2 linked regions of the Homo sapiens genome follow. The protein of the gene in region 2 binds, or shares a complex with, the protein of the main gene of each other region. Each region holds a gene or a part of one and is shown on either strand. Other genes may lie near its edges.

Region 1 (7,148 bases), on a different chromosome or scaffold from region 2:
GCTGTGGGTAATCTTCACCAGAGACAGTTAAAAAACAAACTGCTATAATTTTTGCTACATCAGAAATCTTTGGATTTGATTAATAACATCCCCCACTGCTCACTATATATTTGTTATTAAAAGTCCACTATATGTTCGAGACCTATAAATTCTGCTTTAAAAATTAAACCCAAAGTTATGCTGGTCTTATGCAGCTTCTGGTCTCTTTTGTATGGCTTTATTGCCCTCAACATTCTCCTGGTGTAAACTACTGAGCAAGGAAACAAGATTTCCATTGTAACTGATACCTAAATTTCTATTCTGCTTTAAGCATCTAATTTGCACTGTAAAGACATATAATTTGAGACTTGTAGCTATATCACAAAAGTACAGCAGTTTATGCTGATCTCTAATTTTCTGAGTTATACTGGCTATAATTTACATTTTTTGCATGTTTTTAACTGCCATGCAAATCAGTATACATCAGAAACCTTTGTATATTGACAGAGACTGGGAAAAGGATGCCTTGTTCTGATTTCAGATAAGCATTCCCTTTTCAGGTCTGCAGGTGCAAGTAGGCCCATTCATAATATTTCCTTCAAATCAGTTTTAGACACTGGGTAGAAATGCAATGCTTTTTCACAAGAGCCTGACTAATGTTTATAAGCACAGTTAATGGTTTTTAAAAATGTACTTTAAATAGTAAATTTTAGAGGCAAGTAGGACTTTTTCCTTTGCCTGTACGTTGGGAACAAAATATACTGTGTTAACACAAATTTTGGTCATTTTACTAGTGTGTATGTGTGTTTACTAAATCTAGAAAAGCACTTTATTACTTATTGAAACAGGATGAAATTATGCTTAGCGGAAAATTTGCTGCAACAAATGCATGTTTCTTCCATTTAAGAGATAACTGATAATGAATGTTACTTTTTCCTTTGCCTTTTCACTATTTTGAAATCAACAAACAAGCCAAAAAATAACCACAAGATAAAGAGATTTACTCTAATTTCTCCATTTCAGATAACTGAGCAAATCTCCCTGAAACAAATATTAGAAAACTGTATATGCAACAATTTCCTAAAGATAGCTGGATGTTTCCATATATCTCTATATCTATATATATAAAACCTACTTATAAGGTTATGATTTGACTGTTTTAATTAGCTTCAGGCAAAACCTTGACACTTTAAAGTATAGGAGTAAATTTTAACCTACAAAACAATTACAACTATTAATTAAACTCTCCTTGAGCCCAAGAGGTCAGAGAAAGGCTCTAATATAATTTAAGGACTTGGTGACCAAACAGAGAAAAAGTGAAATTAAAAAAAAAAAAAAAGAAAGTATGACAAGAGTCACTGCATTAGCAAAAATAAATGTTGGGCCTATATTGAAAACCATTAAGAACTCATCCTAAACTCATGATTCGTCCTATTACTTAGTTGTGTAATTTTCCAACAATCCAATCTGGTATACCACCTTACATTTGATTTTGTTTCATAAATCAAAAGTCCTAAAACACCTTCTCATATGCTATTTGACTTGAACTTTCCTTTGTGATTTAGAGAAGGCAGGTATTATTAATAAACCTCGTTTTACAGATGAGGACAATGCATTTCGTAAAGAGTTAACCTCTCCACATTAAGGTAGCTCTTACACAAATGGTTTGCCTGGACAGAAAGCTGTTAATCCTGGTTCAGAGTTCTTTCTGCTTCTCTGTCTCAGAGATTGATCTCAGTGAGGGATCAATTAGATAGTATTTTTTTTTTTTAAGCCGAAAGGATGATGACTTAAAGCATTAATATCCCTCCAGTGTGGGTAATTCATTCAGATTGAGCACTAATGATAGCAGAAACTTGTATGCTGTCTTTTTCTGGACTCAAAAATTGAAGACTACTCCCATTATAACCAACTTATCTACAGCCTCGAGTTAAAGGCAAGTTAGTCCTTAGTGGACCCAAATGTTAGAAAGATAGGGAGAACATTGTGTACAGACGATGCCCTTAAGAATGGACCAGGGCCCCTAAATGACTTCTGTAAACAGGACACCCTCTTTTCCAAAATTCCTTTCTATTAGGGCTTCCTCAACACCTAGGAGTAACACAGAGTGTCTCCTCTGATAATTAGTCCTTGCTGTCGCTCCAGGGCAGAAATGCTTGACACCTGGCCTCTAGGCCATCTGTGCTGGAGGACGCTGCCCCGCACCCGCCCCCTTGAAGTTCTCTGATGACCGCAACTTACCTGGCCGGGATGCTCTGGCCGGGCAGCTCTTCGTGCCAGCCCAAGACCTTTGGGGAAGAGAAGAAAACAAAACAAAACAAAACAACTTACCACCTTGGCCCAGTCCAAGAACAAGTGAAAACACCCAGGCTGCCCAGAGGAACGAGGCGGGACCTCGCCGGTCGTTTTGCAGGCAGACAAATGCAGCGGTAAAAAAAGCCAGGGCCGAGCCGCACATAATGCAAAACAGCCCGCCCCGCGCCCGCCGCCTGACTGCCTTCCGGACGCGGGCTCGCGCCTCCCGGGCGCACCTCGGGGCCCGCGGGCCGAGTGTCGCTAGGACGTTTTCCGCAGGCCTAGCAGGCGGACCCCGCGGCTCGGAGCAAGCGGTGCAGGTAAGCGGGCCCGGGCACCGCTCGGCATCTCAGGGCCCCTGCGGCCCTCCCGGCTCGGCACGGCGGGTCCCGCGGTCTCCGCGAGAAGCACCTCCTTCGACGGCCAAGGGCCCCGGCGGCGACTGGAGAGAGGGCTCTGCAAGGGCTCCGCAGCCTGCTCCGGGACAAAGAAAAGAGCTTTTGTTTCTCTCCAGCCGGTGGGGCTTCTGCTGCATAAATCAGCTTAGCGAAGAGCCAAACACAATCAAACCCAAACAAAGCCCGAAGCTGGGGGGGAAACCACCCTAATGTACATTCACTGGGTGATGCTGGATCTGTGGGAGGGGACGCCGGCGAGGTCGAGGGGAAAAAAGTCTGTGGCGCATCAATCAGCGCAGTTGCTTCCACAGGTGGGCAGGGAGGCCAACACCATTAGTTGCAGCTTTGCAGCCCCGTCTGCGGAGCAGCGGGCAAAGACAAGTCGGCAGCGTCCTGGCTGGCAAGGGAGGAAGCTCGGGATGCCAGCAACAGGGGGAGGCGGCTCTGGGAGCGCCCTAGAAGCACCCGCCGACACCCGCAGGCACAGAGCGAGGCATCGCCGCTCCCTCCCTGGCGGGGAGTGGGGCCTGCGGCTGCGAGCGCAGGAGGGGAGGTTCCGCGAGGTGCCGGAGCCCGGCTTCGCGGGGCGGGGGCTGCGTGCCCTTGTCCTTTTCGCCTCAGTGCGCGGCTCAGGCGTCCCGCAGTCCAGAGCCCGAGTTGCTGGCGCGCTCTGGGGTGCACACGGCTAGGATGCGAGAGAGGCGAGGCCGGCGATGGGCGGGAGAGGGGTGGTCCTGCTCTGGCCCCCCGGGGGGCTCCAGACCTGCGGGTAGCCGGGTGCACTCAGGGCAGAGAGTTGCTAGGAAACCTCCCCACGCTACCGGAGCGCCTCGCCTCGGCTGCCCGCAGGCGCGGCTGCAGCCCGGGCAGGAGCAGCAGTAACAGCTCGGAGCAGCGTGGGCGGGACATTGGTGAGGCATGAAGTCACCGCGGCCCACACTCGCTCTTTGTTTTGCTCACTCCAGCTCTTTCTTTTCCCCCTTGGCTCTGATAGTTGCCATTCCCATCGTTCACAAGAACTCCTGAAGCGTAGCCGCGCAACAGGAATGGCACGCCTCGTTCCCTTCTCCCTCCTCCCCCGAATCCTTGCACCCCAACGCTCGCGGGGGTGGTGGGAGACTCGCTCAGCGCCAGCGGCAGCTGCGAGCAAACCCCAATCTCTCACCCCCGCGCTGCTCGCCGCTTTGTTCGGAGATACTCACTGCCCCGCAGCTGCTGCATACAAAGTGGAGTCAAGGGACCTCCCCTGCCCCCAACGCCCTCTACTCAGCACTTTGCTTGCAGTTAGGAGCTCGTCCTCTACCCCACCACAAGGCTGCCCCGGTGTCCCTAGCCTTTGGAGAGTTGGACCAGTCTGCAGGGGCTGTTCCCGGAGCGACTGGCCGAGATTTCTCGCTGCTCCTTCTCTGCTCAAAACCTTAACCCTGGACTGGACAGCCCTGTTTTTCCCCAGCGTCTGGTGGTGGCTCTGGGCTTTTGCAAGTTACAGTGGGTCTTTTGATCTTAAGCGTCACCTTCCCAGTAAACGGAACAAAAAGTTACAGACAGCAGCAAAGCGGGGAGAGGGGAGCTAAGGAGAGAAAGTGGAAGGCACTTCTGCCTGCTTGCAGCTCAGAAATTTAGGTGCAAGTAGGGTGCGGGTGTTATGCTGGGCAACTGCCCGGAAGCAGCGCGCCTCCTCGGGTCCTGTCATTACCACGCTAAGTCGAGGGAGGGAACTCAGTCCCCCGCATTGGAAACAAGGCAGTGTTTCCAGTTTAACACGGTGATGGTTCTCTTTTCCCTCTAGGGGCAGGAGCGATTCCCATTCGAGGAGTTTGACCTCTCATTTTAATACAACACCCGCCTCTTAGAGGCAGCAGACCAGTCCAGCCAGGTCAAGGTGAAATATGCGGGAGTTTCCCCCCTTCTTATTTAATAGTTTCCGTCTCCTTATTTGTAGTTAAAAAAAAAAAAAAAAAAAAAGTAGGAGGCGCGGTCTCTCTCTTTCTTTCTGTTGACTGAGTGAATGGAAAGTACCTGGTTAATAAACCACAACATCGAAACTCCCCCTTTCAGGTGTGGACCGCACAACGGGGTGCACAGGATTAGTTAAGCAAAGCAGGAACCCAGCTGGAAAATTAAACGAGCCCTGGATCTGCAAAGCAGGTCCCTTCGCGAGACCAAAGCCGTGATCCCAACCTTAGCAACATAATTCTACTGGAGGTGATGTACTCTAAATAAATAGAAATAAATCCAGCTCCGCTTTAATATTTATTTCCTTTCCTTAGTTCCAAGTTTGAACAGTTATAGTTTTGTTTTTTGGTTGTCTTAAAGGAAAGGCCTAAAAATTAGTTAGGATGGGTGTGAGGACTTGAAAATTTGAACACAAAAATATCATATTCAATATCTGATTAGTGACTCTTCCATTGGGCAGCCTGGGTATTTTCCAGGGGTTATGTCACAGACCTACTGAATGCAGCCACCCTTGAGACATGCAGTGCTTCAATCAAAAAAAAAAAAAATTAAATCCCTAATTCCCATAAGGACATGTCAATACACTTTAAAGTGTCTATCATATCACCATTCCATAATATTCTAAAATACAACTCTTTGTTGCTGGGTTGTAAGTGGCAGTTACAGTAATAAATAAAATATAAATGTATGCAAACAAGAAAGGATGTAACTTTATGAAATTGATGAGGTATGCACTAATTTTTGTAACTCTGTTTTTAGGTGTTGATATATATACTAATCCAGAACAACCATGTAGCAAGAGGAATAAAATGAAGTTCAGAAGTCTGTTTCGGGAAATTTTGAAGCCCTTTAGAAAGAAAGATTTCTACATTTTGTTACATGAAATTCATGCAAATATATGTCAGGTGCCAGTGCTATGGAGTTGTTGAAGAATAAGCACAATACCATTTATTACCACTTCTCAGTTGTAAAGAGGCTGTAACTCTGGTTGTCGAAATAAAATAAAATGAAATCTCCTAGATGTGACACTGTGACCCCTGCCAGTTATTTACAAACAAGTTATCTGCACATTTTGGGCTGTAAACATAAAAGTAAACTCTCTGAAAGACTGCAAATCATCTTTAGGGTTTTCTTAAAGTAAATACAACTAGTGGCCCAGGAACCAAAAGTTTGCTTGTTTCCAGTTAATGTCACTGGTCACCATAACTCACCCTTTTTCCTATGAGGAAATGTACAGCATATTTTAAAGAAATGCAGTATTGTTATCTTCGTCATATTACCTGAAGAATTCTAATAAAGGAAAAATGTTTCGGAAGATGGTGACTTGATTAATTTGTTTTTCCATCATGTTCTGCTATATTGCTTTGAAATTTCTGACAGCTAATTTTTCATCATTTGTGGTAATGAGAGGAAATGAAATTCACAGATAGTCTAAAAATAACATTTTAGTTATTCATTCCAGGCTTCCTATCATTAGAGTCTTTGAGCTGAGTTACTAAAAAGTCATAAAATTAAATTACTTAAATTTCTTCCCTACTCCTTTAACCTTGATTTCTCACTAAGTGAGTTTATGGTGAGAATGAATAAGCTATAGATAGGTAGCAGGAGTGAGGGAGACACTCAGACTGTTTTTTAAGAAATGGAATCTTGCTATCTCACTATGTTGCCCAAACTGGCCTTGAACTCCTGGTTCAAGTTTGAACTCAAGCTATCCTCCCACCTCAGCCTTCTGTGTAGCTGGGATTATAGGTGTAAGACACCACATACAGCTGTGGCTATTCACACTTTAACTAGATGTGCCCAAATTATTGATCTCATAGTGGCACCTACAGACACATTTGAATTTTAATGTTACATCTTTTTGAAGTTGGGATCAGAGCCATTCAGTACGTTTTGGGTGGGTATTCACAAGTTATCTATAAGCTTGCCTGAGACATCTCAGAAGATGATTAATGGTCAGACCAGTGAGATATATTATTGTGACTATGACCTCTAGCTTCTTCTAATGATAAAGTACATAAATTGCTTGAAGGTATTTTTCACTGAATTGTTACATAAGACAGTGTTTCTCATACTGTAGACTGAAGACTGCATACAACACAATCCCCCATAGAGTAATTCTGAGTTCTAATTCCTTGTCTCTATTCCAGGAGATTCTGAATTAGTAGATCTTGTATGGTGCTCAGCAATCTGCATTATACCAAGGTCCTCAAATGGTTTTTATATGCTCTGAAGTTTAAGAACTTCCTACTTTAATGGGTTAATACAGAGACTCCTTAAAGGCCTCATGAGTGTTTAATAACAGAGATCAGTGTCAGGTGCAAATTCAAAGAAAAATGAACTGCTGGAGCCAGTGTCTCTTGCCAAGATAGTTTATGGATGACTCAATCTGTGAGATATTAATGTTTTCTGAAACAAGACTTCCATGATTAAGCTTGGGAAATGCTGAATTAAAGTCAAATTAAATCCCTTACTAGAGGAATTTCCGGAAACTCAATAGAGCAGCATGCCATTAGATTC
Region 2 (7,675 bases):
TGCGCCACCATGGCTAATTTTTGTATTTTTAGTAGAGACTGGGTTTCACCATGTTGGTCAGGCTGGTCTCAAACTCCTGACCTCGTGATCTGCCCGCCTTGGCCTCCCAAAGTGCTGGGATTACAGGCGTGAGCCACTGCGCCCAGCCTTTTTTTGTATTTTAGTAGAGACAGGGTTTCACCATGTGGTCCAGGCTGGTCTCAAACTCCTGACCTCAAGTGATCCCCCTGCCTCAGCCTCCCAAAGTGCTGGGATTGCAGGTGTGAGCCACCGTGCCCAGTCTTTTTTTTTTTTTTTTTTTAAAGATGCAGTCTTGGCTGGGTGCGCTGGCTCATGCTTGTAATCTCAGCATTTTGGGAGGCCGAGGCGGGCGGATCACCTCAGGTCAGAAGTTCGAGACCAGCCTGAACAACATGGTGAAACTTCGTCTCTACTAAAAAAAAATACAAAATTAGCCGAGCATGGTGGCGCATGCCTGTAATCCCAGCTACCCAGCTACTTGGGAGGCTGAGGCAGGAGAATCGCTTAAACCCGGGAGGCAGAGGTTGTGGTGAGCCAAGATCTCGACATTGCACTCCAGCCTGGGCAACAAGAGTGAAAATCCGTCTCAAAAAAAAAACATAAAAAAAAGATGGAGTCTTGCTTTGTCACCCAGGCTGGCATACAGTGGCACAGTCAGGGCTCACTGCAGCCTTGACCTCCCAGGATCAAGTGATCCTCCCACCTTAGCCTCCAGAGTAGCTGGGACCACAGGTGTACATTTTTTAAAAGTGTTTTGTAGAGATAGGGTCTCACTATGTTACCCAGGCTGGTCTCAAATGCCTGGATTCAAGTAATCCTCCCATCTCTGCCTCCCAAAAGTGCTAGGATTACAGGCGTGAGCCACCCCGCCTGGCCTGAACTACTATCTTTTATTGTCTTCTTCACTATCCCCCACTAAAGCAGGTTCCTGGTGGGCAGGAACTCCTCCCTTAACCTCTCTGGGCTTGTTTCCTCACCTTTAAAATGGGTGTTATCAGAGTCCCTGCATCTCAGAGTGTTGCTATGGTGACTGAATGAGTTCATTAATGTAAGGCACTTCAACAGTGCCCAAGGTGCTCAATAAATAGATCTAACTACAGTAGTGTTCCCCACTGGTCCCCTGTGCCTTGATGCCGGGCAAAGGAATAGTGCAGACAGGCAGGAGGAGGCAGAGAGGGAGAGAGAGGGAGTGGGAGTGGGGGAACGTCAGGGATGGAGACCCCAGGCAGGCGCCCAATGACACAGAGATCCGCAGTCCTCTCTCCATCTTTAATGGGGCCCCAGGTGGGCTTGGGGCACGGGTGTCCTTAAATACAGCCCCCATGGGCAAGGCAGCGGGGGCGGGGCGGGGTGGGGCCGGGCCTGCCGGGGCGGGGCGGGGCGGGGCGGGACCTCAGCTGCACTTGCAGGAGCGCACGATCATGTTGGACAGCTGCTCCACCTTGGGCTTGCGGCCCACGTAGTACACGATGGGCAGCGGCTCCAGCGCCTGCGGCACGCAGCACGGCGCCGCCGAGGCGCCCGGGTTATGCTGGTTGTACAGGGCCAGGACCTGCGGGCGGCGGGCGGGGTCAGGGCTCAGGGCTCGTGGAGGGAGGAAAACGGCCCTCCACTGCCCCATCCCCCACCCGCTACCGCGCCAGCCTCTCTCACTTCGTCTCTCCCCGCATCCCCTCTTCCCATCTCCAATTCGGTCTCTCTTATCTTCTAACATCCTATCTTATTCTGTCTCTCCCCACCTGTCTGATTTTCTTTTTGTTTTGAGACTGGGTCTCGCTCTGCCACCCAGGCTGGAGTATAGTGGCACGATCATGGCTCGCTGCAGCCTCAACCTCCTGAGCGCAAGCCATCCTCCCGCCTCAGCCTCCGGAGTAGCTCCAACCACAGGCAAGCGCCACCACTCCTAGCTTTTTTTTTTTTTTTTTTTTTTTTTTTGGTAGAGATGGGATCTCAGTCTGCTGCCTGGGCTACTCTCGAACTCCTGGGCTCAAGCGATCCTCCTGCTTCAGCGTCCCAAAGTGTTGGTATTACCATCGTGAGCCGCCGCGCCCGCCTGATTTTCTTTCTCAGTCTCTGTCCCTCCTCATCTTCGCCTCTTGCCTTGTTGTGTATCTGTCTTTGTCTCTCCTTGGCCTAACTCTGTGTCTGTATCTGTCTCTCTCATTTTGTCTCTCCATTTCTGCGTTTTTCCTTCCATCTCCCTGTCTCTCTTCTCCCCTTCACCCCCATCCCTCTGTTACTTCACTCTGTGGGTCTTCATAGCTCATCTCCCTCTGGCCCCTGCTCAGAGCCCCTCTCTAGCTTCCTGCCTCTCTCCCCATCTCTTTATTCATTCCCCTCCCCACCCCATCCCTCTCTTTCTCCCCATCCTGCCAACTCACCTCTCTGACTTTACTTCTCTTTCTCTCTCCTCTTCCTCCGTCCTGGCTCCCCCCAAGCGCATCTCGTAGCCCGGTGGGCCAGACGTACCTTGCTGTACTGCGTGTCCAGGCTCCAAATGTAGGGGCAGGGCCCGAGGCAGAAGTTGGCATGGTAGCCCTTGGGCTCGTGGATCCACTTCCAGCCGAGGTCCTTGCGGAAGTCAATGTACAGCTGCCGCACGCAGCAGTTCTTCTCCGTGGAGCTGCAGGCAGGAGAGACGCGTCAGGGGCAGGGAGGGGCTACCACCATAGAAGCCACATGCCCCTCCTCCCCAGGTGCGTGTGTCACCCTAGGTTGCCCCCCCAGCCCTATCTCCATCTGGGTCTCCCTTGCACCCACTGTGTTAATAACAACACAAATAGTCATGATAATCACTAACACAGATTAAGCACTTCCTCCAGTGCTAAGAGCAATGTAATAATTAATTTCACGCAATGCTTAAGACAAGCCTGTAAGAAGCCAGATGACCATCCACGGGGGGGCTAAATAAATCATGGCATGCCACACCCTGGAACATACAAAATAACACAGCTCCATGTAAACTGATCTGCTCTATTTGTGCAACAAATGTTTATTGAACTACTACTGTGTGCTGGGCTGGGATCTACTGTGGACTGAGGACAAATGAAACAGATAGAAATAGGCTAGGCATGGTGGCTCACACCTTTAATCCCAGCACTTTGGGAGGATGAAGTGGGAGGATCGCTGGAGTCGAGGAGTTCGAGGTTGCAGTGAACTATGATAACACCACTGCATGCCAGCCTGGACAACAAAGTGCAAGACCCTGTCTCTACAAAATTTTTTTTCAATTTTTTTAAAAAAGAGACAGAAATCTCTGCCCTCCATGGGCATGCTATAAATTGTCTTGTCACTCCTCTGCTCTGAACCTGGCTCCATCTCACGGCAAATGCCCAAGTCCTCACCGTGAGCCACAAGGTGCTATCAAATCTGGCTGATCTCAACTCCCTCTCTCACGCCTACTCCACTCCAGCCACACTGGCGTCCTGTCTGTTCCTCAGACAGTCTTATTTCGGGGCTCCTGCATCTGCTGTTCCCTCTGCCTGCCTTGCTAGTCCCACAGATACCCACTCCAGCTTGTTCCTTCACTTCATTTCTTCTTTTTTTTTCTATTTTTTTTTTTTTTTTTTTTTGAGACAGAGTCTCACTCTGTCTGCCAGGCTGGAGTGCAGTGGCATGATCTCGGCTCACTGCAACCTCCGCCTCCCAGGTTCAAGCGATTCTCCTGCCTCAGCCTTCCGAGTAGCTGGGATTACAGGCGTGTGCCACCATGCCCGGCTAATTTTTTTGTCTTTTTAGTAGAGACAGGGTTTCACCATGTTGGCCAGGCTGGTCTCGAACTCCTGACCTTGTGATCCGCCCACCTCAGCCTCCCAAAGTGCTGGTATTACAGACCTGAGCCACTGCATCTGGCCTATTTATTCTTTTTAATTTGTTATTCTTTTTAGAGACACGGTCTCACTATGTTGCTGAGGCTGGTGTCGAACTTGGGCTCAAACGATCCGCACGCCTCGGCCTCCCAAAGCATTGGGATTACTGGCATGAGCCACCACACCTGGCCCCTTCACTTCATTTAAACCTTAGCTCAAATGTCCTTCACTCAGGGACCCTTAACTCCTAAAGCAGTGTCTGGAATGCAGTAGGTACTAGTAAATATCAGTTACATGACTGAACATCACCTCCTCAGAGATACCTTTCTGAGCCATCCTTTCCAAAATATCCAAGTGACTGTTAGTTCCATTTAGTGCAATACGGTATTGCAGTTATGCAAGAAAATATAAAAATGTCTGCATTTGAAATGGGGCAAAATCTTAATTACCGATGACGCTGGATGAGAGTTTACGGGCATTCATTATCTTCATTGCTTTTGTATACATTTGAAATTTTCCATAATAAAGGAATTTAAATCAGAATAGGAAAAATAACAGTTCCCAATATCTATTACTCTCTGCCTGCCTTCTTCTGGTTTATTTTACTTCTTAGAACTGTCAAAGAGGCCGGGTGCAGTGGCTCACGCCTGTAATCCCAGCACTTTGGGAGGCCAAGGCGGGTGGATCACCTGAGATCAGGAGATTGAGACCAGCCTGACCAACATGGCGAAACCCCGTCTCTACTAAAAATACAAAAATTAGCTGGGTGTGGCGGTGCTTGTCTGTAATCCCAGCTACTCAGGAGGCTGAGGCACAAGAATCTGCTTGAACCCAAGAAGCAGAGGTTGCAGTGAGCCAAGATCGTGCCACTGCACTCCACCCAGGGCAACAGGGTGAGACTCTGTCTTGAAAAGAAAAGAAAAAAGAAAGAAAAGAAAAGAAAAAGTTGACAATGCCTTTTTTTTTTTTTTTTTTTTTTGAGACAGAGTCTTGCTCCGTCACCCAGGCTGGAGTGCAGTGGTGCAATCTTGGCTCACTGCAACCTCTGCTCATAGATTGGTGGGGCCAGCCAGGCACGGTGGCTCACGCCTGTCATCCCGGCACTTTGGGAGGCTAGGGCAGGCAGACTTGAGGACCCTGTCTTTACTAAAAATTCAAAAATTAGCTGGACCTGGTGGCGGGCACCTGTAATCCCAGCTACTGGGGAGTCTGAGGCAGGAGAATCGCTTGAACCCAACTTCAAGTGGCACCGGATAACCTAGAGGCAAGATAAAGCCTTTCCAAGAGCCACAGAAGCCTGAGAAGGAAGTCAAGAAACTGAGATCCCTGTGAACTCAGCCCGTACCACCCAATTTGGTTGGACCTCAGTTTCCTCATCTGTTCAGAGGTAGGAGCTACTAGATAAAATAAGGTGTTAAGCTGAGGGCCAAGGGGCCATCATGGGCAGGCTTAGGGAGGGCCATGAGTGCCTGAGATCATATGCACATGTGTGTATGTATGCATGTATTTCTGGGAAAAAGAGTCCTGGCTTTCACTTTCTCACAGGAAGTTCTGAACTCACAAAAGGGGAAGAACTAGTGTCCGGAATCTTTTTTTTTTTTTGAGATGGAGTTTCCCTCCTGTTGCCCAGGCTGGAGTGCGATGGTGTGATCTCAGCTCACTGCAACCTCCGTCTCCCGGGTTCAAGCAATTCTCCTGCCTCAGCCTCTCAAGTACCTGGGATTACAGGCATGTGCCACCATGCCTGGCTAATTTTTTGTATTTTTAGTAGAGGCTGGGTTTCACCATGTTGGTCAGGCTGGTCTCAAACTCCTGACCTCAGGTGACCCACCCACCTCGGCCTCCCAAAGTGCTGGGATTACAGGCATGAGCCACCGCACCCGGCTCAGAATCATCTTTAATATGCAGTTCAACCCTAGCTGGGGTTCTGAGATCCTAGGATTTGAACAATCTGTGATACTGTTATCCAAGTCAGCAGCTCTCCACGTGAGCTCCCAGGACCAGCGGCAGCATCACCTGGGAACTATGGGAAATGCAGATTCTCAGGTGGCACCCCAGGCCACTGAAATCAGAAATTGTGTGCAGGACTGGGAACAACAGTCCGTGTTGAACAAGCCGTCTAGGTGATCCTCTGACTCATTTTTTCAGCACACATTCGGGGCCTACCCTGCACCGGGCCTTGGGATACCCACAGCCCTTGCCCTTGCCAAGCCTCTTCCGTCCAGTCTCTCAAGACCTAGGCCAGGTGCAGTGACTCACGCCTGTAATCTCAGCACTTTGGGAAGCCAAGACCGGTGAATCGCTTGAGCCCAAGGAGTTTAAGACCAGCCTGGGGAGCATAGTGAGACCCTGTCGCTACAAAACTTTTTATAAATAAAAGACCCAACAGAGACTGTTTGTTGAGTCAAAGATCTACTTAGGGCCCCAGGGGAGCCCAGAGGCCTCACATCCATCTTGGATGTTGGAGAAAGGGGTTAGGAAGGAGGTAGTGTTCGAGCTGCCTTAAGAACAAATTTTCCTATGAAAGTTTTTTTTTTTTTTTTTTGAGATGGAGTCTTGCTCTGTTGCCCCAGGCTGGAGTGCAGTGGTGCAATCTTGGCTCACTGCAACCTCCATGTCCCAAGTTCAAGCAATTCTCCTGGCTCAGCCTCCCAAGTAGCTGGGATTACAGGCACACACCACCATACCCAGCTAATTTTTCTGTATTTTTAGTAGAGACAGGGTTTCACCATGTTGGACAGGCTGGTCTCGAACTCCTGACCTCATGTGATCCACCCGCCTCAGCCTTCCAAAGTGCTGGGATTACAGGTGTGAGCCACCGCGTCCAGCTGGAAAGTTTCAGATGTACACAAAAGCAGCTTCAACAATGACCAACTCATGGCCAATTTCCATTGCATCTCTACCCCTATCCACTATCTCTTTTTTTTTTTTTTTTGAGACAGGATCTCACTCTGTCACCCAGGCTGGAGTGCAGTGGTGCAATCACAGCTCACTGTGGCCTCCAGCTCCTGGGGCTCAAGCCAACCTCCCACCTCAGCCTCCTGAGTAGCTGGGACAAAAGGTACACACCACCAGGCCCAGCTACTTTTCATATTTTTTTTTTTGGGAGATGGGGTTTCACCATATTGCCCAGGCTGGTCTCCAACTCTTAGGCTCAAGCAATCCTCCTGCCTTGGCCTCCCAAAGTGGTGGGATTATAGCTGTGAGCCACTGCAGCCAGCCGACAATGGTTTATCTCAAAGCACATGCAATCCACCGTGTTGCTTCATCCATAAATATTTCAAATGTATCTCTAATTAAGACTACTTTAAAACACAGTCACAATACCATGTAAGAAAATTAACAATTCCTTGATATCTAGAGGAATATCTAGACAGAGTTCACATTTACCCAACTGTCTCATAAATATCTTTTTTTTTTAAGCCTGTGTAAATAAGGATTCAAGTAAGGTCTACACATTGCAATTGGTTGATATGTCTCTTAGGATTTTTTTTTTTTTTTAATTTTTGAGATGGAGTCTCACTCTGTCACCCAGGATGCAGTGAAGTGGTGCAATCTCGGGTCACTGCAACCTGTGCCTCCCAGGTTCAAGTGATTCTCCTGCCTCAGTCTCCCAAGTAGCTAAGACTACAGGCGCCTGCCACCATACCCTGCTAATTTTTGTATTTTTAATTATTTATTTATTTTTTTGAGACGGGAGTCTCACTCTTGTTGCCCAGGCTGGAGTGCAATGGCGCGACCTCGGCTCACTGCAACCTCCACTTCCTGGGTTCAAGCAGTTCTCCTGCCTCAGCCTCAAGAGTAGCTGGGATTACAGGGCCCGCCACCACGCCTGGCTCATTTTT

The links.
Region 1: the proteins of TGFB1 (region 2) and ITGB8 are in contact, whole or in part, in a cryo-EM structure (PDB 7Y1T), measured with the Homo sapiens proteins. Residues at the interface, in NP_000651.3 of Homo sapiens: His117, Thr241, Arg243, Arg244, Gly245, Asp246, Leu247, Thr249, Ile250, His251, Gly252, Met253; in NP_002205.1 of Homo sapiens: Ser156, Ala157, Ser158, His160, Asn161, Asp213, Tyr214, Asn215, Leu216, Gly248, Asn249, Ile250, Asp251, Thr252, Glu254, Gln286.

What each region holds. Positions count from the first base shown.
Region 1 is NC_000007.14:20,327,096-20,334,243, reverse strand, and holds the start of ITGB8 (integrin beta-8 precursor), read right to left. Parts: upstream 3,345-7,148; 5' UTR 2,438-3,344; coding exon 2,311-2,437; intron 2,268-2,310; coding exon of another isoform or gene 2,221-2,267; intron 1-2,220. UniProt on the Homo sapiens protein: Integrin alpha-V:beta-8 (ITGAV:ITGB8) is a receptor for fibronectin. It recognizes the sequence R-G-D in its ligands.
Region 2 is NC_000019.10:41,329,638-41,337,312, forward strand, and holds the end of TGFB1 (transforming growth factor beta-1 proprotein preproprotein), read right to left. Parts: intron 2,645-7,675; coding exon 2,491-2,644; intron 1,574-2,490; coding exon 1,415-1,573; 3' UTR 686-1,414; downstream 1-685. UniProt on the Homo sapiens protein: Transforming growth factor beta-1 proprotein: Precursor of the Latency-associated peptide (LAP) and Transforming growth factor beta-1 (TGF-beta-1) chains, which constitute the regulatory and active subunit of TGF-beta-1, respectively.